4 separate regions of the Homo sapiens genome follow, and regions 2, 3 and 4 are each linked to region 1. The links come from fine-mapping of genetic effects on gene expression. A gene starts in region 1. Each other region holds a variant in brackets. All regions are shown on one strand. Distances are between the middles of the regions. Region 1 holds the start of CRIP2 (cysteine rich protein 2). Region 2 holds the start of TEX22 (testis expressed 22). Region 3 overlaps MTA1 (metastasis associated 1). Region 4 overlaps MTA1 (metastasis associated 1).

What was found.
Region 2: its variant is fine-mapped to the expression of CRIP2 in whole blood (TOPMed, PIP above 0.99).
Region 3: its variant is fine-mapped to the expression of CRIP2 in whole blood (TOPMed, PIP 0.94).
Region 4: its variant is fine-mapped to the expression of CRIP2 in sigmoid colon (GTEx, PIP 0.94).

Annotation. Positions count from the first base shown.
Region 1 is chr14:105,471,672-105,479,011 of GRCh38, forward strand. It overlaps CRIP2 (cysteine rich protein 2), which reads left to right and starts at 3,150. Exons shown (of 8, transcript NM_001312.4): 1 at 3,150-3,234; 2 at 6,595-6,689; 3 at 6,779-6,836; 4 at 7,060-7,200; 5 at 7,308-7,340. The coding sequence starts at 3,192. RefSeq lists enhancers at 1-36, 1,592-2,124 and silencers at 2,153-2,202, 2,213-2,302, 2,393-2,542, 2,813-2,882, 3,063-3,172.
Region 2 is chr14:105,398,024-105,405,363 of GRCh38, forward strand. TEX22 (testis expressed 22) reads left to right here and starts at 515. Exons shown (of 4, transcript NM_001195082.2): 1 at 515-612; 2 at 1,279-1,467. The coding sequence starts at 1,318. It overlaps PACS2 (phosphofurin acidic cluster sorting protein 2), which reads left to right. Exons shown (of 25, transcript NM_001100913.3): 25 at 1-124. RefSeq lists a silencer at 28-937 and enhancers at 605-1,115, 1,116-1,626. The variant G/A (reference allele first, on the strand shown) is at 3,929.
Region 3 is chr14:105,437,643-105,444,982 of GRCh38, forward strand. MTA1 (metastasis associated 1) reads left to right here. Exons shown (of 21, transcript NM_004689.4): 2 at 1,030-1,097. Among named protein-coding and RNA genes, the nearest start is that of MTA1, 21 kb to the left of the region's middle. RefSeq lists an enhancer at 1-357. The variant G/A (reference allele first, on the strand shown) is at 4,077.
Region 4 is chr14:105,445,531-105,451,006 of GRCh38, forward strand. MTA1 (metastasis associated 1) reads left to right here. Exons shown (of 21, transcript NM_004689.4): 4 at 3,829-3,879; 5 at 4,528-4,654; 6 at 4,731-4,794. Among named protein-coding and RNA genes, the nearest start is that of CRIP2, 27 kb to the right of the region's middle. RefSeq lists a silencer at 3,356-3,495. The variant T/A (reference allele first, on the strand shown) is at 2,710.

The DNA of each region.
Region 1 (7,340 bases):
GTGCACGTCCCACCCACCCTCCCTGGGCTGTGGCGCCCCCCCACCCAACCCCAGCCCCCACCAGCCAACTCTAATCTGCAGCCAGCATCCGAGTGACCCCACAGCCTGAGGACTTGCCTGTAGTGCGTCATCAGACGGCTGGGAAATCAGGCCCCTGACCTCATGAAGGACACAGCTCCCTCTGAGGCCTTTTCCAACCCTGGGGGTCTGGAGCTCAGTGAAGACCCCAGCTCCCTTGTCTCCCTTCCCCAGGCCTCGGGCTTGCCTCCCAGTGCTGGCTGCAGGGTTCTGGCCTCAGCAGCTCTTCCACCCCCCAGGGCCTGTCCTTTTCTGGAGTCAACATGTGGGCTGTGAGGTGTCCTAGGTCCTGGGCTCTATCCCAAGGGCAGGGAGGCCCTGAGGAGATGTGGGGCCCTTTCCCACCCCAGACACCCTCCCCGGCCAGACACCCAGGCTGCAGTGCCCTCACAGGGCCAAGCTCTGGCCACCGGTGCTGGGTGGGGCCTGGGCTGCTTGTGGGTCTAAACCTGGGCTTAGAAGTGAGTGGGTACCGGCTGGGGGGAGCATTGGCCTTGGTGCCCAGGCCATGAAGGGGTCTCCCAGCTTTGCTATGTCCTCGTTAGGCCCTTCCCTGCTGATGAGACAGCAGCCTGCTTTCTGCACCAGCAACCCCACAGGGGCCGCGGCTCCCCAGGGCCAGGGGCATCTCAGGGTGGCAAGGCCATCATGCTGTCATGCCTGGAGACCTGTCCTGCCAGCTCCGCTCCACCCTGCTAGGGTCCTCTGTCCACCACTCAGCCCAGCCTGGCTTCCCTGCAGTGGAGCTGAGTAGCAGGGGCCTGCTATCTGCCAGTGTCACAGGATGGCGGAAGGGACCAGACCACTGCAGCCCAGGGGTGTGACCCAGCCCCATGCCCAGCCATCAGCCCTGCCAGCTCCCTTCACACCCGCCGTGTCCTGTGCCCCCCTCTCCACTCGGGCCCGTCCCACTGTGTCACTGCCCCTGCCTGTGACCCACCGCAGCCTCAGAGGTGGAGACCAAGGCCACTGCTCTGCACCCATTGATCCTGACCCCTGCCTGCCAGGCCCAGAATAGCCCCGTCGCATTAGGGAGCTTCTGGCCGCTGCCCAGGGACTGCGGCTGGGGTGAGGGCAGTGCAGCAGCTGGCACACTCCTTGTCCCACCCCACCCTCCGTGTGTCTCCAGGGCACCTGGCCAGTGCCGAATGCCATTCCTTTGCTGCCACCCTGGGAGGGGCCTGCCTCTACCCCCATCCACTCTTCTGGCAGGGCTGGGGACCTTGGGGCAGGTGGTCTCCCTCCAGAAGAGCCCTGTGTTCAGCCAGCCCTGTCCTCCAGAGCAAGCCCCACAGGTAGCAAGCCCCACAGGTAGCAAAGTCAGGGAGGGTAATGGCTTAGCCCCAGGCTCCCAAGCTGGGCAGAACAGGGCAGGGAGCTGGAGAGGGTTTGGCAGTGGGCCCATGAATCCAGCCTGGGCAAGGCCCTGCTGTGAGGGACCCCTAGGGACCCCTGGGCCTGCCAGGGAGGAAGGGCTGCCCAGAAAAGGTACTGACTGATGCCTCCTCACCATCTTCTGCCTTGGCTGGCACAGGTCCCAAGTGCAGAGGGGGAGCTGGTCAGGCTGGTCAGTCGGGCGGGGGGGCGGGGGGCATGTTTCTGGCCTGCTGTCACCATGGAAATGGCAGTGGCTGCAGGGTGTGTGTGCAAGGGAGGAGGGTGCTGCCACAGAGAGCCCAGCCAGGACCACCATGAAAGCCAGGAGCACCGAGGGCCTCTGGTTGGCTCACAAACATGCCTGGTGCACCAGGCAGAGGGAACAGGTAGGTCTCCGTGTCCAGCCCACAGCCTCCAAGACACAGGGGGAAGGGTGTCCAGAGTCAGCTGCCCCCATAGGGCCTGATCACTGGGCTTCTGGGATCTGCCTGTCTCCCAGGCCGACGCTCAGCTGGGGCCAGAAGGCTCAGAGAAGGGCCCATGGGGACAGAGCACCAGGAAGCCCGTGGGTGCGGAGGTTCCCCACCTGGGGCCAGGCTCTACGGGGCTCTAGGGCGGAGGCACTGTGGTGAGGCGTGGTCAGGCACGCCCTGGTTGGGAGGAGGCCAGAGTGGGGGTGTGGGGGTGCGGTGACTGGCATGACCCCTCAATCTCCCGCCTGACCCCTCGAGGTCAGGCCCTGGGCCCCCAGGCACGCAGCTGGTCCTGGGCGGTGCGGGAGAAGGGACTGGAGTGTCAGCCCCAGCCCGGGGCACAGAGGGCACGCCCACTCCTTCCCCTCCTTCCCTTCCTAACTCCTCACCGCCTCCCCGGCCGCCCCCTGGGTGGAAGTGCTTGGGGTGGACGCCTTAAGCGCGGATCCCTCGGCGCTGGTGCCCGCCGCCCCTTCCCTGCCTGGGAGGCAGACGCAGACCTCCCCACACCCCCTACCAGCAGCTTCTCGAGCTGTTTCTGGAGGTGGCGGCGCCTTCCTTCCTGAGCCCTGCCCTCCACCCAAGGAGCCTTCAGCACCACAGACAGTGTTGGGGCGGGGCGCGGGCGGGGGCGGAGCGGGACATGGAGACCCGGACAGGGCTGGGGGCCGTGCCCGCCGGGAATCTGACTCCGCTCCCGCGGCGCGGCTGTTGCTATGGAAACCGAGCAACAAAGGGAAGCGGGACAGGCGCCGCGCGCGGCGGGGTGGGGGTGGGGTTCTCCCGGAGCCTGCGACCCCTTCCCGCGGCGGAGCGCAGCCTGGGCGCCCAGGGCCGGGAGTGTTGGACCCCTAGGCCCAAGTCACTAGGGCTCCCCGAGAGCCGAGGGCCAGGCTCCCCGCACCCTGCCCGCCGCCCCGGGGACGGCCCGGCCAGGCGGCCCCGACGTCGCCATGGAAACAGCCGGGGCGCGGGCGGCGCCGCGGTCGCCCGGGCGGGCCCCTGTAGACGCCACCTCCGGCGCGAGGGGCCCGGGGGCGCCAGGCCTGGCCCGGCTGCCCCGCACCCGCCACCCCCGGCAGGTGCGCCCCGCCCCCGCGGCGCCCCCAGGCGGCCCCCAGCCCGGGGGACGGGTTATCGAGGCCCCGCCCCGGCCGCGGAGCCAATGGGCGCGCGGACAGCCGGGCAGGCGGGGCTGGGCGCGGGCGGCGGCGGCCCGGAGGAGAACGGGCGGAGGGCGCGGGCCGACCGGGCGCACCGACCATGGCCTCCAAATGCCCCAAGTGCGACAAGACCGTGTACTTCGGTGAGTGCGTGCCCGCTCCCGGCCCGCTCGGTGCATCCCGCCGCCCTTCGCGGCCAGTCCCGCGCCGCAGAGCCGCGGCGTAACTCGGGGTGCGCCCGGCCCCGGCCCCGGACCGAGGATGCGCGTCCCGGAGGCTGGCTGGCCGCGCTGCCCAAGCGGCTAAAGCCAAAGGGTGGGGCTGCGCGAAAGCGGGGGCGGTCACGCCCGAACCCCGAAGCGGCTTGTGGGGGCGGGGCAGGGACCACCCGGGCGGGGCTTGTGGTGCCCCGGGATGAGGCCAGTGTTTGGGGGAGCGCTCGGGGATCCGCGGACGCATCCCGGTTCCTCGGACGGCGCCGGGCGGGGCGGGGCAGGGCGTGGCTGTACGCCCCGGGTGCGTCCCGCGCGCTCCCGTGGGCCTGGGCCCTTTCTCCTGGACCCCCTACACCCGCTTCCCCCGGGAACAAGTGGCCGGGAACAGTGACCCCCAGCTCCCACTCCGGGCTCCGCTGAGCTGGGCTGGGCCAGGTTTGGACTCTGTCGGGATTCAGTCCAAGCGGGGGCGACCTTGGCCTCTGCCTCCTGCTTGTCCCGACGCATTCCCTTGGCGCCAGTTCCCCCAGGAGTTTCACACGGGGGTAGGGTGGGGGCGGGTGTGACACGCGAGTTCCCGCGAACGTGAGAGGGACCTTGTGCTCAAGCAGCCCAGGTGTCCAGGATCCCTGCCTCCTCAAGGTCAGAACAGCCCTGGACAGGATGCAGGTGGTGGCGGGAAGAGGGATGTCTCGCAAGGCGGCCCTCGGTCTAGCCCCTCCGGCAGGCGCGCTCCCCCCGTCTGGGCTTACTCACTCTCTGGGCCTGGGTGCGCCCTTCCTACCCCCTTCCTCCTGGCTGATTCGCTGCCCAGCTTTCTCCAGGGTGGTAAGGTCCCTGCCCACCTACCCACCAGCTGCTGCACGAAGGGGGGCAGACTTAGTGAAGCAGAGAGGAGGGCCGGGACCAACAGGGCGCCTGCCCTGGTCGCCCCATACCCAGAATGCGGCCAGGCTGCAGGGAAGGCCGCCACTGGGCTTCCCCGGCTCACAGGCTGGAGGGGGTTGAGGGGAGGTTGTATTTTGCCCGTCCCAGAGGGGAGGGACCGGATTTGGCCTGGAGTGCTTCTGGCGTGGCTGGGAGCCGAGGGGCTTCCGGCTGCCTCTCCTGGAGCCCGCTCAGCCCTCAGTCTCTGTCCCAGCGAGGGCTGTCTCTGTAAGGCTTAGGGTGGGAGACGGTCCCCAGGGCCCTTCTGCAGTCCAACTGCCCATGACTTTACCCCAGGCCGGGCCAGGCCAGCCTGGGGCTCTCCAGGGTCTCGGCCAACAGTCCTGTGGACAGCCCGGAAAGGCCTGCCTGCCTGGCCCGCCCAGCCTCTCAGCGGAAAACAAAGGCGCTTCAGACCCGGCTGGCTTCTGTCCTGCCTGGGAGGCACTGTGAGGGCGAGGGTCCAGAATCCTGCCCACCCTCACACCAGGCTGCCCCCGCAGCTCATACCTGAGTAGAACCCAGGCTGGGATGTCGGAGCACATTGAGGAGGCCACCCCAGAGCCCATGCAGCCAGGGTGGGCAGCTGGTTTTCTTCTGAGCCATTAGACCCAATCGATTCTGTGTTCCCAACTCGGACCCGTAATGTGTGGCCATTGACCCACCCAGTGGGTCTGAGGGCCAGTTCCCTGCCCCCACTTGGCCCACGTCCCAGAGCTGGCCAGAGCACAGTGCTGGCAGCCCTGGGCTGCAGCTGCCACGGCCGATAGCCACCGAGACTTCCTTGCTGCTGCTGGGACACGCCTGCCCACCGTGCAGCCAGCCCCTGCCTGCCCTGGTGTGTCCCAGCTTCCTTGAGTGGAGTGGTTCTGGTCAGAGGGCTCTAAGCTGGTGCAGCCTTGTGGTTGGGCTGGTGTCCTGGAGGCTGGCCCTGGCCATGCCCAGAGGGTTGTACCAGGGCCACGGAGAGCCAGTATTCACAGCCCTCTACCTAGTAGGCCACCTGGGGGATCCCATCTCACTGCCAGGAGCAGCACCCTTGGGCCTCTCAGAGTGGGCTTCGCCCTAGCCAGATGCCCCTCCCCGATATCTGCCAGACAAAGGGGGCTGGGCCACTTGCTGAGAAAGGGAGCTGGGAGAGCCACTGGTCCTCGGCCACCTGAGGGGCTTGGCCAGATTCTGCCGGGCAGGGTGGGCCCAGCCTGCATGCTCCCTCCCCCCAGGGCCTGCAGCTTGTCCCCTTCCCTTCAGAATTCCGGCTCTGCTGGGCCCTTCCTGCCCCTCCCCACCTCTTCCTGCCTGGCTCCCTAGGGAGGCCCCTGCTTCCATCCACTGGGAAGCAGTCCAGTAGCCCCAGTGTGGGGGTGGGAGGCAGTGGCAGAGGGTCCCGGACCCTCAGCAGCTGCCCTCAGATCTTCCATGCCAGTGGCAGCCAGGGGCATTACGGCGGGGGGAGAGCTCAGGGTTTAGGACGAGGAATCCACAGACAGATGAGGGTCCCGCCTGGAGGACCCACGGGGACGGGGCCTGGCCTTCCCATGAGGGAGCTGGAGGTTCTGGGGCTGCACCTTTGACTCAGCAGCGGGGTGCTGCCAGCCCCATCAGGGCCCAGTTGGTGGGGATCAGGGGCGTGTCAGTGCGAGGCAGGTGTGAGAGGGAGAGCAGCATGTGTTGAAGCAGGTGCACTGCAGAGGCAGGTGTGTGAGTGTAAGAGAAGTGTTTGAGGGAATGACAGGTGGGGGAGATGCATATGTGTGGGGGGAGGCAGGTGTGTGGGGGGAAGCGGGTGTGTGTCTGAGGAAGCGGGTGTGTGTGGGGGGAAGCGGGTGTGTGGAGGCGGGCGTGTGGGGGAGGCGGGTGTGTGTGTGAGAGGAAGGTGTGTGGGAGGAGGCAGATTTGTGGGGGGAGGCGGGCGTGTGGGGGAGGCGGGTGTGAGGCGGGTGTCCGGGAGGCAGGTGTTGGAGCGCGGGCAGGTGTTGGAGCGCGGGCAGGTGTTGGAGCGCGGGCAGGTGTTGGAGCGCGGGCAGGTGTTGGAGCGCGGGCAGGCTCGAGCACAGGCCCCTTCACCGCAGGCACTGAGGGGACTAACAGGGCAGCCCCGGGCCCCTTCTCAAAGGCGGCTCTAGCGGGGTTCCAGGGCTGGGGGCGCTGAGACCCAGAGGGAGAACAGGGCCTGGGGGCGACGGGCTCCTCCGGGTCTCAGAAGGAGGGGCAGGGCCCGCCAGGTGGAAGGAAGGCGCCTGGGAGACCTCCTGAAAGTGGGGACCCCCGGAGCGCGTGGGGGTGGTGGCTGCCAGGTGGGGGCGGAGGGGGTGCGGGGCGCGCCCCGGCCCTGACCCCCCTGCCGCCCCTCCCGCTCAGCCGAGAAGGTGAGCTCCCTGGGGAAGGACTGGCACAAGTTCTGCCTCAAGTGCGAGCGCTGCAGCAAGACGCTGACGCCCGGGGGCCACGCCGAGGTGAGCCCCACTGCGCGGCGCGGGCGGGGGCGGGGGTCGCGACTCCCGCCACCCTCAGGCAGGGTCCTGACCCGCGCCCCTCTGCGCAGCATGACGGGAAGCCGTTCTGCCACAAGCCGTGCTACGCCACCCTGTTCGGACCCAAAGGTGAGCTCCGGCTGCCCTCGGCCTGCCCTGGGACCTGCTGGGAGGGGCGTGGCGCTGGCGCTGGGGAGGGCTGGGGGTCCCGGCCGCCGTGGATCCCCGCCCAGAGTCCCTGCCACCCTGGAAAGCCTAGTGCCCCCCAGTCCCCAGCGGGCCGTTTTCTGAGATGCCCGGTGGCCGCGGCCCCCACCCCACGTACCCCCGCCCCACGTACCCCCACCCGCAGGCGTGAACATCGGGGGCGCGGGCTCCTACATCTACGAGAAGCCCCTGGCGGAGGGGCCGCAGGTCACCGGCCCCATCGAGGTCCCCGCGGCCCGAGCAGAGGAGCGGAAGGCGAGCGGCCCCCCGAAGGGGCCCAGCAGAGGTGGGCTGGGCGCGGGCTGGGGCTGGGGGTTGTGGGCACGCGCGGGCTGGGGCTGGGGGTTGTGGGCACCCCCGGCCCCGCCCCGCCCTGACTCGTGCGCCCCACAGCCTCCAGTGTCACCACTTTCACCGGGGAGCCCA
Region 2 (7,340 bases), 74 kb before region 1:
TTTTTAATGAAACCCTGGATTAATGTAAATAGCTTTTTGGGGAACGGATTCTAATGTCACGTATGTGACCGTGTGGACTATTTCAAGGTGCTGATGCAACACTAATAAACCTGGAGGGGCCGGCCCCCGCCTGCAGTGTGATTCTCTCGGCCGTCCACCCCTTGGGAGCACGCGGCGGAGCAGCGCCTCCCTCCCGCCCGCGCGCCCCGTCCTGGGTCGCCCCGCCCCAGCCCTGCGGCCCCGCGCGCGCGGAGGTGGCCCGGGGCTCAGCGGCATCGCGCCGCTTGAAGGGCGCAGGGCCGAAAGGGGCTCTGGCCGACAAACCCCAAGTTCAGGTCTGTGCTTCGGGAGACCCCGGAGGCCGACGCCCGGAAGGGCCCGTGGGGCGGTAGCGGCCATAGACCCGGATATGCGCCGGGGACCCCCAGACCGCGCCCATCCCCCACCCGCCGCAACGGAGCCCAGAACGCAGGCGCGGCGCAGACCGGAAGCGGAACCGGTGGGGGCGGGGCTTGCCGTAGCGGACGTTCTGGAGCGAGGCGCCGGCCCCTTGGGCCCCCTCAAGCCGCGGTGTACTCCAGCGGCCCCCTGTGGCCTCTCCATCCGCGGCGGGTCTGTCCCTCCTTCTGTCTCCGGGTGCCCACGTACCCCCCACCTCCGACCGCCGTTCCCGTGTACCCCGCCCCCCCGCCGAACCCCAGAGTGCCCACGGCCTCCAGCGTGTGTCCTGAGCCTTCTTCCCCCGTCCCTCCGCGGACCCCGGCCGCGCAGACCCCGCCTCCCCACCGGAGAGGGCGGGCACGTAAGGGCTCCGGGCTGGGCCTGGGGCGAGGCCTGGGCCGCGTGGAGGGGAGGTCTCAGGGTCGGAAGCGGGGCTGTGGCAAGAGCTCTGGGCCTTTCCTTCGCCCCGGGCGTAGCAAGGCCGGGCCCTGAGAGCGTGCCCGCAGTGCTGGCTGAGGGCTGATGCCCCTGGAACGTTTGAGAAGGCTGGCAGAGGCGTGGAGTCCGTGCAGCAGGCTGCCGAAGGCTTTCCAGGCTCCCGGGGTGGGGTCGGCAGGGGCAGAGAGGACAGTTCGGGAGGCTGGTGTGGAGAAGAGCTGCGGCGGGAGCTGGGGGATCCACTCCACCCAGAGGGGTCAGTGATGCCTGACCTTTGGCTGGAAGGTGACCCTAGCAGACCGCGATACTGCCACCATCTGCCCCCAGGGACTCAGGTATTGGTGGGCACGTGGGTGGCCTTGTGGGCCCCGCCCCACCTCCCCCTGCTCCTACCCCCAGATCTCAGAGGTGTGGACAAGCAGCCTACTAGGGCTAGAGATGGACAGCAGGAAACTGTCCCCCCGGGGGAAGAAGCTGGAGTCGCACCTCTCCCAAGAGCACAGGCGGCCCCCACTGGGCCTGATAGCAGCCTGGGGCCAGCCCAGTATCCAGAGCAGCGTTCAGCAGGGACTGCAGACTCAGGACTGGGTAAGCGGAAGGAAACCCTGGCCGAGGCTACTCTCCTGTCCCCAGCCCGCCTGAGGCCGCTGTCTCTGAAAACTCCAGGCTGGTCGTGATGAGCAGCCTCAGGGGAGGGCTGAGTGGGGACTGATGAGAAACAGATGGCTGGACTCAGGAGGCTCTCTTCCCCATGGCCCTGGACGAGCACCAAGGTGGACCTGCACCCTTCTTGCTTCCAGAACCGTGGGCCGCTGGGCTCTGTAGAGAGGTCTTCCAAGGCCAGGAAGGAGGCAAGGCAACACACTTCCCTTAGCTCTCCCCAGTGCCTCCCACCCCAGGCTGAAGGTGGCAAGAAGCGGGAGGGAAAGCAAGGTCCCCAGGGGGGGTGGTGTCCTCCCAACCAGGTGGGGCAGCTGTCAGGAGAAGGATTTGTCACTGAAAGTTGACCAAAACAAAATAGTGGGAGAGGCTCTGCTGTGATTCCCCAAACTGGAAGCATCTCCTGGTCTCTCTACTGCTGGACAGTGAGCTACAGGCTTGTGTCAGGCCCAGTAGTGAGAATGGTGGGATATAGCTGTTCAGCCTTAGGACGTTCTCTGAGGGCAGAGGAAGCCAGAACCCCACTCGTGTGGTTCCACTTTTGGAAGGTTCAAAGCCAGGCTGAGAGATGGCTCTAGGCTGTGGCGAGATGGGTGCAGGGGCTCCTGGGCACTGGCAATGCTTTGGCAGCTGGCGCTGGTCATGCGGCCAGTTCAGTGTGGGGAGCTCATTGAGCCATGCACACAGGCGTGTCTGCGTGTGTTCCCAGGGCTGCCCGCTGAGGCCCCTTTGTACCCTCTCAGTCATGTCCTTCAGGCCCAAATGCTTTCAAAACCCCTATGATGGTGTCAGGTGCTGGGGAGTGGGGTGACCAAACCAGCAGATGCAGTGGCTTTTGGGAGGCGAACATCTCATGACAGGCAATCCGGACTATAAATACACATAGGTCACCTGTCTAGTGAGGGCCGCTCAGGAGGAGGGCCAGGGGGTGTGAGGCTTCTGTCCTGCACAGGGCTGGGGACAGGGCACTATGTCTGAAGGGGTAGGGATGTGGATGCAGGAGGAGTGTGTATTGGACCCATATCCAGCAAGGACACAGGGACCCAGTGGCTCTTGGGCAGGGGCAGCCAGGCTGTATTTGTAGTTCCAAGAGATGGACTGGTGGCTATGGGTAATGGTGGTTGAGGACAAGGCTGGGAGGCAGAAGAGTGGGCTGAAGGCCTCCAAGGGCAGGCGAGCAGTGGGAGAATTAGGTTGTTGGCCAAGGGTGGAAAGAGGTATGGGTGCATCTCTGCTGACGGGCAGGTTTTTAGTTTGGGGACAGGGAATCTTCCCTAAAAAATGTGGGTGCCCAGATGACTTTATAGGTGGGCACTCCCAAACAAGAAATTAGTCATCCTCATTGATGAAGCTTCACCTGCCCAGAGCCACTTCTGATATGGACCTGGTATCACCCAATACCAGTGCCAGAAGAGAACAGAGGGAGAAAAGGAAAAAGAGAAAATGATGTGCCAGTCTACCTGTGGGCATAGATTGAAAAATCCTGAGTAAGTACTAGACCAAATCCAGGAGCACCTGAAATGCAGAATTTCATAGCCGTAAGGATGGGTCCTGCACACTTCCGCCTGCCAGGAGAGCAGGCACATGTCTCTTCACAGCTCTGTCCCAGTGCTTAGGACAGTGTCTGGCACATAGTAGGTGCTCAATGAATGTATATGGAATAAATGAAGTTGTATGTAAATAAAAGAAGATTGTAACCCAAGGACAAAGGAATTTTGAAATCTGTAAATAAAGTTCAGTAACAACAGGTGGAAAATCACATGATTATCTCAATAGATGTTGAAAAGTAATACTAATAAATTCCAGTATCTTTCCTTAAGAACAAAAGAAGTCGCAGCCATAAAAAAGGATGAGTTCATGTCCTTTGTAGGGACATGGATGAAGCTGGAAACCATCATTCTCAGCAAACTATCGCAAGGACAAAAAACCAGATGCTGCATGTTCTCACTCATAGGTGGGAATTGAACAATGACAACACTTGGACACAGGAAGGGGAACATCACACACCGGGGACTCTTGTGGGGTGGGGGGAGGGGGGAGGGATAGCATTAGGAGATACACCTAATGCTAAATGACGAGTTAATGGGTGCAGCACACCAACATGGCACATGGATACATATGTAACAAACCTGCATGTTGTGCACATGTACCCTAGAACTTAAAAGTATAATTTAAAAAAAACCGAAGTATAGAAACCTGTAGGTTCTGGATAAGATGGGAAGAGATGGACATCTCCATAGCCTGACGGAGGGGAGCTCTCAAGAGCTTGCAGTGGCCACCAATGGAAGTATTTCAGATGCAAGCAGATGGATGCATGGTACCACTATGACGTCAGAAAAATCGCCAGGTGCGGTGGCTCATGCCTGTAATCCCAACAATTCAGGAGGCC[G/A]AGGCAGGCGGATCACCTGAGGTCGAGAGTTGGAGACCATCCTGGCAAATGGGATGAAACCCCGTCTCTATTAAAAATACAAAAACTAGCTGGGCATGGTGGTGGGTGCCTATAATCCCAGCTACTTGGGAGGCTGAGGCAGGAGAATTGCTTGAACCTGGGAGTTGGAGGATGCAGTGAGCCGAGATTCCGCCACCACACTCCAGCCTGGGCGACAGAGGGAGACTGTCTCAAAAAAGTAAATAAACAGTATTCTGGAAACCGAAGCCCTTATAGTAAATCAAGAAAATGAGATGTGTAAATATCTGAAAAGATGACAATCACTATTTGCATCTAATATGTTACCTACTTGGAAAATCCAATTTAAGAAACATGAGTACAGATAAAAGAGGGAGTTTGGATATGTGATCACCATTCACAACTTTTCAACACAGTAAAAAGCAGAAAATGGAATGGAAGCAAAGGATACTATTCAACTTAGCAACAGGAACTATGAAGTTCTTAGAAATAAACCTGTTATTGGCCGGGTGTGGTGGCTCACGCCTGTAATCCCAGCACTTTGGGAGGCTGGGGCGGGCAGATCACAAGGTCTGGAGATCAAGACCATCCTGGCTAACACGGTGAAACCCCGTCTCTACTAAAAAATACAAAAAAATTAGCCGGGCGTGGTGGCGGGCGCCTGTAGTCCCAGCTACTCGGGAGGCTGAGGCAGGAGAATGGCGTGAACCCGGGAGGCGGAGCTTGCAGTGAGACGAGATTGCGCTACTGCACTCCAGCCTGGGCGACAGAGCGAGACTCCGTCTCAAAAAAAAAAAAAAAAAAAGAGAAACCTGTTGTTCAATTCCTTCATGAAGAACACTTTACAATGTTACTGAATAGCATGTAGAGCTCCTGATGGAGATGGTTATCATATTGGATGGGCAGATTTCATATGTGTGTTTTTGAGACAGGGTCTTGCTCTGTCACCAGGCTGGAGTACAGTGGTATGATCACAGTGTTACTGGAAAAGGGATCTCCATCTGGACCCCAAGAGAGGGTTTTTGGATCTCATGCAGGAAGGAGTTTGAGGCGAGCTGCAGAGTGCAGTGAGAAGAGATCATTTATTGAAAGCCGCTCCACTGCAGAGCAGGGCATCCTCAACAAGCAAGCAGAGGAACAGACCTACTTTGTTTTTAGTTTTTCTTATATCGAGGTCTTATCTATGTAAAGACCAAGCTGTGCCTACGTGTGGGTGGGCTGACAGCATAACAATTTATTATTCTATTGATTAAAAGGAAACTATTTTACATTTTAGTGTGCAAGTACATTAAAGCATCACTATAATTATCTTGAAAGCATATATTATTGTGGGTGTTGGGACATCTGAACTTCCTTTTCTATGAGTTTGTCCTTGTAGGCATTACCAAGCTGCTTCCTTAGCTGTAAACATCTTAGGTCCGTGGTTGTGACCTGTAAGGAATGTGCTCTATTAGTCTCAAGGTGGAGTTGAACATAAAATGATGTTATCCTGGCTCTCCTAGACTCCTGCTTCTCTAATCACAGCTCACTACAGCCTGGACCTCCTGGACTCCAGCTATCCTCCCACCTCAGCCTCCCAAGTAGCTGGGACCACAGTGGCATGCCACCATGCCTAGCTAATTTTAAAAAAATTTTTGCAGAGATGGGGTCTTACTGTGTTGCCTGGTGTGGTCTTGAACTGGGCTCATGTGATCCTCCAGCTTTGGGGTCCCAAAGTGTTAGGATTATAGGCATGAGCCATTGCGCCCAGCCAGATTTAACGTTTTAAACATGCCAAGCTTCCCAAAAACAATTCAGTGTTTTTTAAAAAAACAGACTTCATGAATCTTGAAAATTTCATTTTAAATGTACATAGTGATTCTGGAAATGTATTACTAGTTTACTTTTTAAAAAAAATTACAGACAGGGTCTCACTATGTTACCTAGGCTGGTCTCTAACTCCTGGCCTTCCTAAGAGCTGGGATCACAGGCATGAGCCACCATACCCAGCCTTTGGCAATGTATTGGTTATCCATTGCTGCATGACAAATTTCCCCAGAGCTTAGCAACTTAAAACAGTAAGTATTTTTATCTTAGTTTCCGTAGGTCAGAAATTTGGGAGCTGCTTAGCTGGTGGCTTTGGTTTGAGATCTCTCAGGAGCTTATAGTTGAGATAGCAGTCAACACTTCAGTCATCTCAAAGCTTGAGGAAGGCTGGAGACTGCTTCCACGGCAGCTCACTCACATGACTGGCGAGTCCATGATAGGGGCTGGCAGGAGGCTCAGCTCCTTACCACGTGGATCTCCCCATAGGACAGCTTCAGTATCCTCAGTATGGGGGCTGGCTTCCCCCAGAGTGAGTGAGTGGAGAGAGTGAGCTGAAAGCTGCAATGACTTCCATGACTTAACCTTGGAAGTCACACTCCTCTCTTTCTACAGTATCCGTTTTGGATACACTGGTCATCCTATTTAGTGTGAGAGGGGACGACACAGGGGCATGGATACCAGGAGGTGAGGATCATTGGATGCCATCTTGGAGGACAGCTCTCACAGGCAGTCATTTAGTCTATACGCTTTAAGAAATTATGTACTGAGAAGCATAATAGTGAAATTGTAGAATGCCAGCGACAAAAACCTCAGAAGCAATTTGAGTGGGAAGACAGAACCTTCAAAGCAGCCACGGGAGCTCGTCACAGTAGAGCAGTAGCATGCCTGTGCTCAGGGGAAGCCATGCTCAGCCTGGAATAGCAGGCCCAGCAAAAATGGATTATACAAAGGGCTAAGTAAAGTTTTTAAATGATAAAAAAGAGAATTTGCCCCCAGCACACTCTCACCTCAGTTCTGAAGAAATGATCTCAAAGCATCATGAAAGTGATGAAAGGTCTGAAATGGATAAAGCATGAGAGGAAGTAGGAAGTGTCTGAGTAAACTGAAACTGACAGTCACTGGATGTCACTCATGCACAGAAAAGCAAGGATACAATCAATATATGTACCTGCAATGGCATAAATGTCAAGATGGTGCCTGTGAGTGGAACTAAAGTGTTCTCAGTTCCTCTGAGAAGAGGAGGGGGGTGGGCCATGGTGGCTCACACCTGTAATCCCAGCACTTTGGGAGGCCTAGGTGGGAGGATTGCTTGAGCTCAGCCTGGCAACATGGCAAAACCCCATCTCTATAAAAAAATCACAAAAAGTTAGCCAGGCATGGTGGCATGTACCTGTAGTGCCAGCTACGTGGAGGCTGAGGCAGGAGGATCACTTGTGTCTGTGAGGCGGAAACTGCAGTGAGCTGAGATTGCACCACCACACTCCAGCCTGGGCAACAGAGCCAGACCTTGACTCAAAAAAAAAAAAAGATCGAGTTGCTTGTCATCTTTGGAGTTAGATGAGTTTGCCTGCCCTCACATATTACAGCA
Region 3 (7,340 bases), 34 kb before region 1:
TGGTGCTGGTCTTGCTGTATTTTGCTGAATCCCAGGCCTGTGCGGGCCTCTGGGCTGATTCCAGCTGAGACAGGCCTCCTGCTCAGTCCCCCCTGCGGAGCTGATGCAGGGTGGGCTGGCGAGGGTGCTCGTGGTGCTGGTTCGTGAGGACATGGCCTCAGTGCCTCCCAAGCTGAGCCCCTGCGGTGGCCCCAGGAGGCCTGGAGCATCGGGGTGTCAGCACCACCAGCCTGGACTTCCCTGGGCCTTCCAGGGTAAGCCTCTGGGCTCCGGAAGGTTCCGTGGCTCTCTGTCTGTGGAGCTGGTGAGAAGGCTGGAGGGCCAGATGGTTTCATCGCTGAGGGAAGCGCTGTACTCACCTGATGGCCGATCTTGGGGCACTCCCAGTGCCTGCTGCCTGTTGCTGTCCCTGAGCTCTGGTGAGCTCTGGTATTCCTGTCATTCCTGGAGCAACTCTGTCCTGTTTTTGAGCCTGCCTGGGCCCAGGAAGCCCCAACTGTGTTCTCTGTGTAGTCACTGCTGTTGGTTTTGGAGGGAAAGATGGGGGCCGCTGTGGGCAGGGCTGGTGGCTGGTGGTGGCCACGTGGCTCTGGGGGTGTAGCATCCAGGCTGGCTGCTGCCAGTGGGAAGGTGTCCTGGGGCTCCCGGCAGGGTCTGGGCAGTGCTGGAGCTGGGCTTTGCCTGGGAAGCTGCCGCCTGGCCCCCACAGCTTCCCCAAGAAGGGCCTGAGCCCTTGGGGGCAGCTGGCGTCTGTGAGGATCCGGGATGGGGGCTGTCTGCTCCTGCTGGGAACGGCCCCTCCAGATGCATCTCCCTGTCCCTGACCCAGCCTGTCAGTCCATTTTGGTTGCAGCCACCCCTCCCTGATGGTGTGGGGGCTTCGCTTCCTCTGTTTATTCCTCGCCTGAGGGAGCAGAGGTGAGGGGATGACACTGCCCCGCCTGAGCCCCGAGTCCCTGGGCCACGGGAGGTGGGACTGGGTCTGGCCTTTGGTGCCACAGGTGGCACTCTCTCTGTTGCTGTTTGCAGACTACGTCTACTTTGAGAACTCCTCCAGCAACCCATACCTGATCCGGAGAATCGAGGAGCTCAACAAGGTACTGGGGGGCCCTGGTGTTGCTGCAGGGGGGTAGTGGGTGGGGGCTACGCCAGCTCCTGCCCTGTGGGTGGCCAGTGTGGGTGGCCCCCTTTCGGGGCTGATCTTGGACTGGCCACTGCACAGGCCCTTCAGTGACTCCGTCCACTGTCACCTGCACCGTGGCTCCTCCTTGGAGATACTGAGTGAGGGGCCTGGTGGCCTCATGCAGGACCCAGCGCAGCTGCCCTGAGCTGCCTGCCCACTCTACACTTGGTCTGTGGGTGCTGGGTCCCCTGAAGATGCCAGTGTCCCCTGGGGAGCCCGAGCGGAATGGTGTGATTCTGAAACCAACCAAAGGCTGCAGAAAGCCATACTCGGTGCCCCTGCCCTGCCCGAACCCTGGCAGCCAGCCCTGCAGGGCTGTGAGCTCTGCCCCCACCCCTGAGGTGTCTGCATGGCTGGAAGCACCCTCCCTGGTCACTCAGGCAGCCCTGCAGGGCTGTGAGCTCTGCCCCCAACCCTGAGGTGTCTGCGTGGCTGGAAGCGCCCTCCCTGGTCACTCAGGCAGCCCTTGCTCCCACCTGGTTTGTGTCTGCCATGAGTCCTTGGCAGTTGCTTGCTGTTTGGTCGGGGGACGTGGTTGTGCCCATGCATTGAGCCTGGCAGCACCAGATCCTTCCTGGGGGGTGGTGACACATGGGCCCCTCAGCCCCAGCCACTCCTGGCCTCCACTGCCTCGGCACAGCCTCCGTCCCATCAGCTCGGGAGACAGAGCCGTAGATGGCCATGGAGGTGTAGGGCGCCCGCACACCCTGGGAGCCTTCTCGCTGTCCTCAGGGGTGGTGGGTGGGTCCCCCAGCGTCCCTTCTCCTCCTCCTGGTTGGAGACTTTCTAAGGGTGTTGAGGGAGGGCAGGTTGTCCCCACCAGTGGACACATGGTTCCAGCAGAGAGTGGGGTGGGGTGCTGGGTGCTTCACAGACCTCTCTGTGCCTGCCTGCAGGGCTCCTGAGCCCCCGATCCCCTGGAGCCAGTGGCCCGATGGCTGCCTTCTCCTAGGAGCCCTGCCCACTCGGCAGGCCTGGGGCACTCGGGCCCTTGGTGTTCCATCTGGATGCTGCAGGCTCACCTGGGAGAAGCTGCCTTCCTGGACCTCAGGCTTGGTGGCAGCGGTGACGTGGGGTTCTTGGGATCAGAGGGGGCAGCGGGGGGAAGGTTAGCGCGCCACCTCTGACGTAGCCATGCTGGGCTCCGGGCTTCCCTGGCTGCGCTTGTCGAGGGCCATTCCCTGCGGTATCTGCCACCACCTGGGGCCGAGGAGCATGGGGTGCGACATCTGCTCCCCCGCAGCTTCCTGGGAGGTCTGAGGGCCAGGCCTGTTTGTTGGAGGCACAGGCAATGACCTGGGTGTCTTCTGAGTCTGCCTCACTGCCCCTGCTGGGCAGGGCCTGCCCGCCTGCAGAGCAAGGCCACTTGGGTACTGCCGGAATGGGGCGCCACTCCTGTGGCTGAGCCTCCTGAGTGCGGGGCAGCACTTTACGCATCCCAGCATGTGGACTGTAGGGAAACAGGTGCAGAGGGAGGTTCCTCAGCTGACGCTGAACCATGGCTGGGGGAGGTCCTGTGTCCCTCCTGGTCTGTGTAGTGGAGGGGCGGCCGGCAGATGGCACTGCTGGCCCCACACAGCCAGCTGGCAGGCAACCCGGGGCGGGAGGCTGCAGTGCCTCCGTGGGCGCCTGGCCGAGTGCCACTGCTGGGAGGTGCCACTGTCAGGAAGGTTCCCTCGTGCTGCTTCCGGCTTCCATGTGCAGACAGTAGATTGCAGGCGTGTGCAGGCAGGGGGCTGGCTTCCAGCCCTTGGGCGATGTTCAGTTACACATGTAGCATTGCACACGCTCAGAGGCGTCCCCTTCGTCCTAGGACTCCCTCCTCCTCAGGGCCAGGGCCACATGGCGTGGGCACTTGCCTGTCTCTGGGCGGGACACCAGCCTGTGAGGGGCACGACTACTCTCTTGGACTGTTCAGGCAGGGCAGCCGAGCCAGACGCTCACCATGTGGAAAAGAACCCGCAGGCCTGCGACAGAGTGCGGCCAGTGCCCTCCACGCCAAGGAGCTCCAGGCGGGGCTTCCAGGTGGGCGCAGCTGGTTGAGTACAGACCTCCCCTCTGTTCCCTGGACTGAACGCCCCCTCAAATAACAAGAAAGTGGTGCTGGGGCTCTGCACCCACAGGGCAAGGAAGGTGGGAGAGGCGGTGCCACTGGGAGGTATGGGCACAGCTTGGAAGGCAGCCAGGCAGACTGGGCAACCTGAGAGGCCCTGGCCCTGGCCTGGGTCAGGATGGGGAGAACAGGAACCATGGTGACATGTGGCTGGCAGCGCGGAAGGCCTGTCTGGGGGGTCAGGTGGTCCCACAGAGCCCTTCCCTGGGCTGGAGCAGTGGACTCAGAGGACCCAGATTTGGGGCACCAGACCCAGGCCAGCACAGTTCGTGCGGGGGCTGGAAGTGGGGATCGCCTGGCTCATGGCCTGTCCCCTGGTGGGCCCCCCCGCCCCTCTTGCCTCCTTGGCTCCCAGGACCCTAGCGGCCAGACTTCTAAAGCCCACAGACCCAGCTGCTGGCATCGGGGACCCAGCAGAATGCCCGCTACCCCAGCACCCATGGGTGCAGCCCATGCAGCGAGCTGCCCAGCACCGGGGAGGCTCCCAGGGATGAAAAGCCGCAAGGCGTATGGGGCGGGGCGGGGGGGCTTTTAACAGGAAGGTCAGCCAGCACATGTAAAAATTGAACTCAGAGGCTGGACGCAGGGGCTCACGCCTGGAATCCCAGCACTTTGAGAGGCCGAGGCGGGCGGATCACAAGATCAGGAGATCGAGACCATCCTGGCTAATACGGTGAAACTCCGTCTCTACTAAAAATACAAAAAATTAGCCGGGCGTGGTGGCGGGCGCCTGTGATCCCAGCTACTCGGGAGGCTGAGGCAGGAGAATGGCGTGAACCC[G/A]GGAGGTGGAGCTTGCAGTGAGCCGAGATCCCGCCACTACACTCCAGCCTGGGCGACAGAGCGAGACTCTGTCTCAAAAAAATAAAAAAGTAAAAAAGGAACTCAGAGGAAGGGCCAGTGCAGGGAACAGAAGGAAACTAAAGCAAAACAAAGCCCGTGAATGTTCTCTGAGAAATGGATGGGATCCATCCTGGGATGTGGTCAGATGAGAGGAAAGCTCTTGACACTTGGGTTAGGAGAAGTAGCAAATGAAATGAAAGGATCAGGTGATAAAGTTGAGGATACCGCACAGAAGATGGGGCAAAAACACAAAGAAACTAGGAGAGAAAAAAATCAGACATCAGTCCATTGGTCCAACGTCCAGTTAATAGCAGAGAAGGAGCGAGCAAAGCAATAAAGAGGGGCCCCTTCAAGGTGTATTTAAAATTTTAGAACACGGGAGAAGAAATGTGTTTAGAGAAAAAGTGGGTCACACACGAAGCACCGGAGTCAAAACCCACTTTGCCTTTCGGCAGCCGCGTTCAGGTGTGGAGGCTCCACGCCCAGCCAAGCTCCATCTCCCGGAAGGCAGATGAGTGAGGTTTCCTGACTGAGGCCTTGGAGTGCACTCCTCCGCGCCTTTCCAACACGAGGGAGGCGCAGGTTCCTCCCGCCCAGGAAGATGCGGCCCCTGGTGCAGGCAGCAAGCAGGGTGGACCCCAGCTCTGGGAGGGGCCTCGCAGGCGCCCTGATATGAGCCCTTTCTCTTTGGGAGCTCTGCTGCCGAGCACTTTAGGGAAGAATCTGTGATGATTCCATGAAAAACTAGGCAAGTGGAGAAAAAAGACGATTGTTAATCTCAGGAAGCAAAGGTGTTCGAAGGAAGAGAAGAAAGAATGGCCTAGTGTGGCCTCACCGCCTTTACCTGTGTGTGCAGGAGCGTCTCAGAACAGACCCCGAGTGTGACTGAGTCCGCTGTGTGCAGGAACACAACACAACAGAACAGACCCCGAGTGTGACTGAGTCCGCTGTGTGCAGGAACACAGCAGAACACAACAGACCCCGAGTGTGACTGAGTCCGCTGTGTGCAGGAACACAACACAACAGAACAGACCCCGAGTGTGACTGAGTCCACTGTGTGCAGGAACACAGCAGAACAGACCTTGAGCGTCATGGAATGCACACAGTGATCCTGGAGGGTGGGGTGCATGTGTGGCAATGGGAGGCCTGGCCTGAGGCGCTGAGCTGGTGGGAACCTGAATGCGGAAGAGCCTGGCCCCACGGTCCCAGCTGCCCGGGTGGGGTGGCTGCGGTCATGTGTTCTTGCAGGGTTCATGGCTCGCTGAGACATTGGATGGTCTGTGTGTGTCACTGTGATCAGATGTGGATGTAACCCCACTGCGGTGGAGCCTGTCAGGGACACAGGAGCCAACAAAGCGAGAACCCGGCGGCCAGGGTAGGGACAGCTCGACCTGCAGGAGGGTCAGGCCACATTGGATCATGACTTGAAGCAGAGCATGGTGGTCCCTGGGTTCACACCACCATAGTGAGCAGATACAGATGCGAAGGGGAGAGGAGATGCACGTCCCAAACAGAGGAATTCCACCCTCGAGAACGCCCGGCTCCCGGCAGGCTGTGCAGAGCAACTGAGCACTTTTCTCTTTATTCTTTCTTTTTTGTTGTTGCTTTTTTGAAACAAGGTCTTGCTCTTTTGCTCAGACCAGAGTGCAGTGGCACGATCTCAACTCATTGCAGCCTTGACCTCCCAGGCCCAAGTGATCCTCTCACCTCAGCCTCCCAAGTAGCTGGGACTACAGGCGCACACCACTGCATCTGGTTAATTTTTAAAACACATTTTATAGAGATGAGGTTTCACCATGTTGCCCAGGCTGGTCTTGAACTCCTGGGAGTGAGCCACTGCCCCCAACCCATTTATAACATTAAACCAAATTATCTTTAAGAAAAGTGGCCAGGTGCCTTGGCTTACTCCTGTAATCCTAGCACTCTGGGAGGCCAAGGCGGGCAGATTGCTGGAGTCCAGGAGTTCAAGATTAGCCTGAGCAATGTGGTGAAACCCCGTCTCTACAAAAAATTTAAAAATTAGCCAGGTTGGCTGGGTGCGGTGGCTCATGCCTGTAATCCCAGCACTTTGGGAGGCTGAGGCGGGTGGGTCACGAGGTCAGGAGATAGAGACCATCCTGGCCAACATGGTAAAACCCCGTCTCTACTAAAAATACAAAAATGAGCCGGTGTGGTGGTGGGTGCCTATAGTTCCAGCTACTCAGGAGGCTGAGGCAGGAGAATCGCTTGAACCCGGGAGGTGGAGGTTGCAGTGAGCTGAGATCGCACCACTGCCCTCCAGCCTGGGCGACAGAGTGAGACTCCATCTAAAAAGGCCGGGTGCGGTGGCTCACGCCTGTAACCCCAGCACTTTGAGAGACCAAGACGGGCGGATCACGAGGTCAGGAGATCGAGGCCATCCTGGCTAACACGGTGAAACCCAGTCTCTACTAAAAAATACAAAAAAATTAGCCGGGCGTGGTGGTGGGCGCCTGTAGTCCCAGCTACTCGGGAGGCTGAGGCAGGAGAATGGCGTGAACCCAGGAGGCGGAGCTTGCAGTGAGCCGAGATTGCACCACTGCACTCCAGCCTGGGCGACAGAGCAAGACTCTGTCTCAAAAAAAAAGCCAGGCATGGTGTAATTGGACTGTGGTCCTGGGAGATGGAGGCTGCAGTGACCTGACATCACACTGCTGCATTCTAGTCTGGGCAACAGAGTGAGACCCTATCTCAAAAAATTAAAAAGTTAGGTGAGGCTGGGTGCTGTTTACACCTGTAATCCCAGCACTTTGTGGGGCTGAGGCAGGCAGATTGCTTGAGGTCAGGGGTTCCAGACCAGCCTGGCCAACATGGCAAAACCCTGTCTCTACTGAAAATACAAAAATTAGCTGGTCGTGGTGGCTCACGCTTGTAATCTCAGCTACCTGGGAGGCTGAGGCAGGAGAATCACTTGAACCCAGGAGGCAGAGGTTGCAGTGAGCCAAGATCACAACACTGCACTCCAGCCTGGGCGACAGAGTGAGACCCCATCTTAAAAAAAAAAAAAAAAAGAGTTATAAATAGTATTCCATTAGGCACTTGCACTGTGATTAGAATTACAGCACAATTCTTGCAGTAGCAAAGATGTTATAAAAACTCGTTCAGAAAACATACGTGCTTCTCTGGTGGCGTTTTACAGCCGTCTTGACTTGGAGACGTTTGTCAGCCAGGCCAGGTGGGAGGGCT
Region 4 (5,476 bases), 27 kb before region 1:
GGGTGCCCGCCTGGCGGGAGGGTCGGCTGGGGAGGGCTGGCGGGGTCCTTCTTCCCTAGGGCCCATCGGCATCCTGGCCTCGTGGGGCCACCCTCTGCCCAACTCACTCTGGCGTCTCTTTTTCTCCCTTCCACAGTGGGCGGGGGTGTCCTGGCTCCGTTTCCTCGGGGGCTGGGTGAATGAAGTCCTCGCACGCCCCCCGGAGTGGTCTGTCTCTCACTGGCATCCTCTGCAAGCTTGTCATGGTGTGGCTGGGTGTGGGCATCATTGATCGAGGCTTCTTTTTCCCTTCTATGATGACTTCTGGAGACTTTCCAGGCTGGTGGGACCCTGCTGCCTGCACTTGCCAATGTCTCTCTCTTTTTAATTTTGCGGAGAGGCTTCTGTTGGGATTCTGAGTAGTGTTTTCAGGAAAGCAGTCCTCTCCTTATTCTTTACGATTCAAACCCAAGTTTAGTAACCTGGCTGGGAGGGGCTGCTGTGGCCAGCACAGCGTGTGGGAGGAAGCCACTGGCTGCATGGGAATGCCCTCAGCCTTGGGGACCCAGCTTCTCCCCCGGGAACAGGTGCTCGCAGGTGGTGGAGTCTCCTGTGCCGGGGGATGTTGACTTCAGAGCCAGGAGCCAGAGGCACCCCCACGCCCTCCACATGCTACTGACACAGGGCCTGCCGAGCTGGGCCCCACCTGCACCAGACACAGTGTGGTACCCCACTGAGGCCCTTCATGTGTCGGTGGGGGCAGGCATGAGGGGCATTTTTGGCTTCCACTCTGACACATCACCTGGGGTGGGATCTGAGCCCAGGCTGAGGCTGTGGTCTGTAGGGTGACATTTCCCAGTAGGTGAGGCATGTGACTGCCCGGGTACCCGTGTCGCTGGGGTGGGCCAAGGTCCCACCTGTAACCTCCCACGACCCCTAATGGGGTGAGGTCCAGGGACTGTGGGTTTGCGGTGGGTCGGGTGGGAGGACCCTCGCATCTTCTGCCCCGTCCCAGCGCTGTGGGTGAGGGGCAGGAAGTCAGCCCAGGCAACCTCCCCCTGCTCTGGGAGGGGCTTAGGGACAGGACAGACCATCCTGCCACCGATGCCTTGTTCCTGAGCCTTTGCTGGGAGTCGGCCAGGGCAGGCGCTTGTGGAAGGAAGGTGTCCCTTAACCCCACTGCCTTGCCCACCGGACAGCTGGGACCTTTCCTCAGCAACCAGTGGATGCGGACGTGAGCTGCCCTGGGTCAGTGCAGCTGGGCCGGGCCCCCGAGCCTGGGTCCACTCTGGACACTGGGCTGTGGGGCCTGTGGCTGGCCCAAAGGGAGCTGCCAGTTGACCATGGGCTTTCTCTGGCTTTGTGAGGAACTGGACCTCCTAGCTCTCTGCTCAGAGGAGGGGAGCGTTCAAGGTGGGGCATGGTGATCCTTGACCTCTGACCCCAAAGCCTGTGTACTCCACTGCTGCACTCGGCGGGCTCCAGGCACCAAGGAGGAGAGCTGGGGATGTTGAAGGTCCACAGGCTACACATTCTGGAGGGGTGTTTGGTGTGGCCCTTGGCCCTGCAGGTGCTGGGTGCCAGTCAGCAGCACGGCTGGCGGTTCTTAGTGTTGGAGGCTGGCCTATGTCGACTCTGCAGGGCTGGCCCGCTGGAGAAGCAGTGGTGGGGAGCGGCCTGGCTCGCTGGAGAAGCAGTGGTGGGGAGCGGGCTGGCCCGCTGGAGAAGCAGTGCCCAGGCTGAGCGGCCGCAGTGTGGCCCTGCCAGTCTGTGTGGCCTGGGGAGTCAGGCGCCACCGTTGAGTTGGGCATGTTTATGGCTGGCCCAGGGTGGATCCTGTCTCTGTCCTCTGGCACCTGGGGGCACAGTGTCCCTGCTCCAGAGAGCCTGTATCAGTGGTTTAGTGGTTTTTGAGGGTACTGTGGCCCCCTTGGCTGAGGTTCTGCTCTCAGACGCCCCAGAGGATGGCCTTTTGCTGGAAGAGCCCCAGAAGGGGACTCCAGACATAACGTGATTAGAGGTATCAGAGGGCAGGTTTTCCAGAAGGGCCTCGTTGGGGCTGATAGGACTGGGTGGAGAGCAGTGTCCCAGCTCGAGCACTGGCCCCCCCAGGTACACAGCACAGCCCCTTTGGACGGTGCTCCCTGGAAAGCTGCGTGGCGGCCCCTCTGCAGGGCGTTCCTATGAACTGAGAGCCCAGCTGCAGGGAGCAGGCGTCATGGGTGATGGGTCTGCCGCTGGTCCAGGGACTCAGAGCGCGGCCCCACTCTTGCCTGGCGGCTGGGCCTTGCGGTGATTCTGCAGGGCCCACACCCCCCGGGGTTGTGTCAATCTCCGTTTCTCCTGCTTCTCTGTGAGCTCATGGCAGCCAGGGTGAGGCCCCCAGCTGATCCCAGGGACAGGTGTGAGGACACTCTGGGAGGCCTCTGGCTCTCCCACGTCACTGCCTCCACCCAGCCCCTGCTGGGGCGTCCAGCCCACAGTGCAGGCCTCAGGGTGGAGGGTAGACACCCGCCAGGCTGCACTGTGGCCCCTGTGGCAGAGAAGCCCTCCCCCCGGCAGGGCTGTGAGCATGAAGCCTTTCTCAGGACAGAATGACAGGGAGAGGGGAACGTCCCTCCTCAGAGGAGGGCGTGGGGGCCCTGGAGACCACAGCCAAGAGTGGGAGTGAGGGCACAGCCTGGGCCTCACGCTTAGGGGTGTATCCAGGGTCTGAGGGAGGGTTCAGAG[T/A]GTGAGGGGTGCAGGGTACACTAGCCAGCCCCACCTCCTGCCTGGGTGTTTCTGCCTGTTGAGGGTCTTCTGAGGAGCTGTAGGCCCACCTCGCCCGCATCTCCGACAGGCTGCACCACAGAGCCCTGTTCTGCTGACCGGGACGCTGGTGAAATGGGAGTTTCGGAGCCGCTGTGGGCTCCTGTCCAGGCTGGGTCAGTGCTCGGATGGGGCCTGGCATAGGGCGGGCGTGAACAAAAGCCAGCCTCTGGTCTGGGGCTGGTGTGTGGGCCTCTGGGCCCTGGTGATGTCTGAGTTCAGGGTGCAGTTTGCTCGTGGGTCCCCAGAAGTGGGAGCGAGTGAGATGTGTTGGCCTGGGATGAGAGGACTGGGGCTGTCCTGGTCGGCCCTGCCCTGTTCTATGGACCGGGAGGAGGTGAGGCTCAGCCGCCAGACACCCCAGGCTTTTGAGGCCCAGATAGGGCCGGCCCAGAACAGGCCCAGCATGGCTGCTCCCAGCCTCAGTCTTAGCTGTTGGCGCCTGGGAGGGCCCAGAGGAGCCAGGACTTCCTGCAGGCACCACAAGGGGGCCGCAGAGAGCGAGCAGCCCGGCTGGCTGTGGTCCCATCTGGGGACCTTGGGCTCAGAGAGCCGGCAGGGCGCTGAGCGGGATGAGTGGCCCACTGGCGGCCGGTGCTGAGCGTGCGAGGGGCGGTGGGGAGCACCACTGCACGCCCCCATTTTGGGTGTTATAAGAACCCTACTTGGGTTCCTAGCACAGGGCAGGAATCCCCATGCTGCTGGCCGGTGCCCGGCCCCGGTCTCATCTGGACAGCCTGTTCTGGGAAGCCCCAGTGGAGTGGGGGCAGGGGTGGCCTCTGGACAGGGGCCCTCCACAGCCAGGCTTGTCTGGGCTCTTCCCAAAGAGGCTTGGCACTGGGTGGATGGGCAGCCAGAGTGGGGGGACGTCGAGGCCCAGATGATCTTCAACCGGGTGGTCTTCACGCCCCACCGGGAGGCCTGCGGCCCCCGTTCTGCCCTGCCCCCTGGCGGCACAGCCCTCGGTCCGGGCCCTGGGCAGGGAGCAGGCCGCCACCCTGTGCTGACCGTGCTGCCGGGTGCTGTCTGTCTGTTATATAGCCCTGTCAGTCTGCTATAAGGCCGGACCGGGGGCGGACAACGGCGAGGAAGGTAAGAGCCGGCCTCCGCAAGGAGGGCGTCCTCCTGTCTGTGTCCCTGGGCTGGGGGCGGCAGCGCCGCTGAGGGACAGAGTTTGGGCGGGCCGCCTGCATGCCTGTGCCCTGCGCCCGGCCGGCCCGGCTGAGGAGGGGCCCTCCCTTGTGTCCGGCCCACGGCCCAGGCTTGGTGCGGCCCCGGCCTGAGGGTGACCTGCTGGTGTGGGAGGTCTGTGGTGGGCTGTATGGGGCTGTCTGGCCACGAGATGGGGACGGACAGAGGGCGGCTGCCCCTCGCCCTCCTGGCCTGGGCTCTTGGCAGCCGCCGACTCCCCCGCTCCTCTTGCTCTTGCCTGCTGCTTCTGGGGCTGGCCCGGACCTTGTTCTCCCTCCTCCTTCCATCTTCATGCCCTGGGGAGTCTGGGCCTTTAGGGTGCCTGGACTTAAAGGGCACGTGGGCACCAGAGTGTCTGCAGGGGTACCTGCCAAGGAGCCGCCGGGCCGCCATAGGGTGGGGCAGTGGGACAGTGTCCGGCAGCAGGAGGAGGCACGCCTCCCAGGACTGGGCCTCCTGCGTGCTGGCGCCAGGTGGGGCTGGTGGGGTGGGCCTTGGTCTGGCAGTGTGCGTCTGCCGCGGTGCTGACAGGGGCTCCTTGTCCTTCAGGGGAAATAGAAGAGGAAATGGAGAACCCGGAAATGGTGGACCTGCCCGAGAAACTAAAGCACCAGCTGCGGCATCGGGAGCTGTTCCTCTCCCGGCAGCTGGAGTCTCTGCCCGCCACGCACATCAGGTAGCCCCCAGCAGCTCCCGCCCTGGGCCCCTCGGGCTGCCCTCGCCTTTCCAGCCTGCCCGTCCTTCTCTTCCAGGGGCAAGTGCAGCGTCACCCTGCTCAACGAGACCGAGTCGCTCAAGTCCTACCTGGAGCGGGAGGTGAGGCCCAGCCCGGCCTGGTCTGCCGCAGCCAGTCCCGGGCCACTGTTTCCTCTACCTATGACCTCTGCTGGCCTGGGCGGCGGAGACGATTTTCCCTCCTCCCTCTAGGCCCAGGCTGTTCTGGGGGGAAGCGGGGATTGCGTCCTGACTGTCACTTCCAGGTGTCCTGGTGTGTGGCCGCCCCCACCCTACGCGTCCAGAGTTGTGGGCCAGGAGCTTGGAGCTCTTTCCTCTTGCCACTGCCACCCAGACAGCCAGCGAGGGGAGGTCCCCCTGGGGAGGGTGTGGCTGAGGCAGGTGGGGGCAGGGGCCACCTGAGTCTTCGCAGGAGTCTTGGCTGGTCTCTCCTGGGCGGTGGGCAGAGTCCTGGTAGGCCCACCTTGGGGGTCACTGTGATTATACGGTGTTACCAGGTGATTCTTATCTGGGGGTCACCTGTGATTATACGGTGTTAACCTGCCGTATAGCATCCCCCAAGGCGTGACAACCAAAAAATGTGTCCCGACAATGCCATACATCCCTGGGGAGCAGTGTCGCCTGACGGAGAGCGGTGGCACTGAGGCTGCTGTGAGATCCAGCGAACGGGAGGGTTGGGTTTTCTGAGGCCACGTGGGGGCAAAAGCGTCTGGAGTGTGTTGGTTCCCTGGAGTGCCTGTCACAGTTGCGGGGCACACCTGCC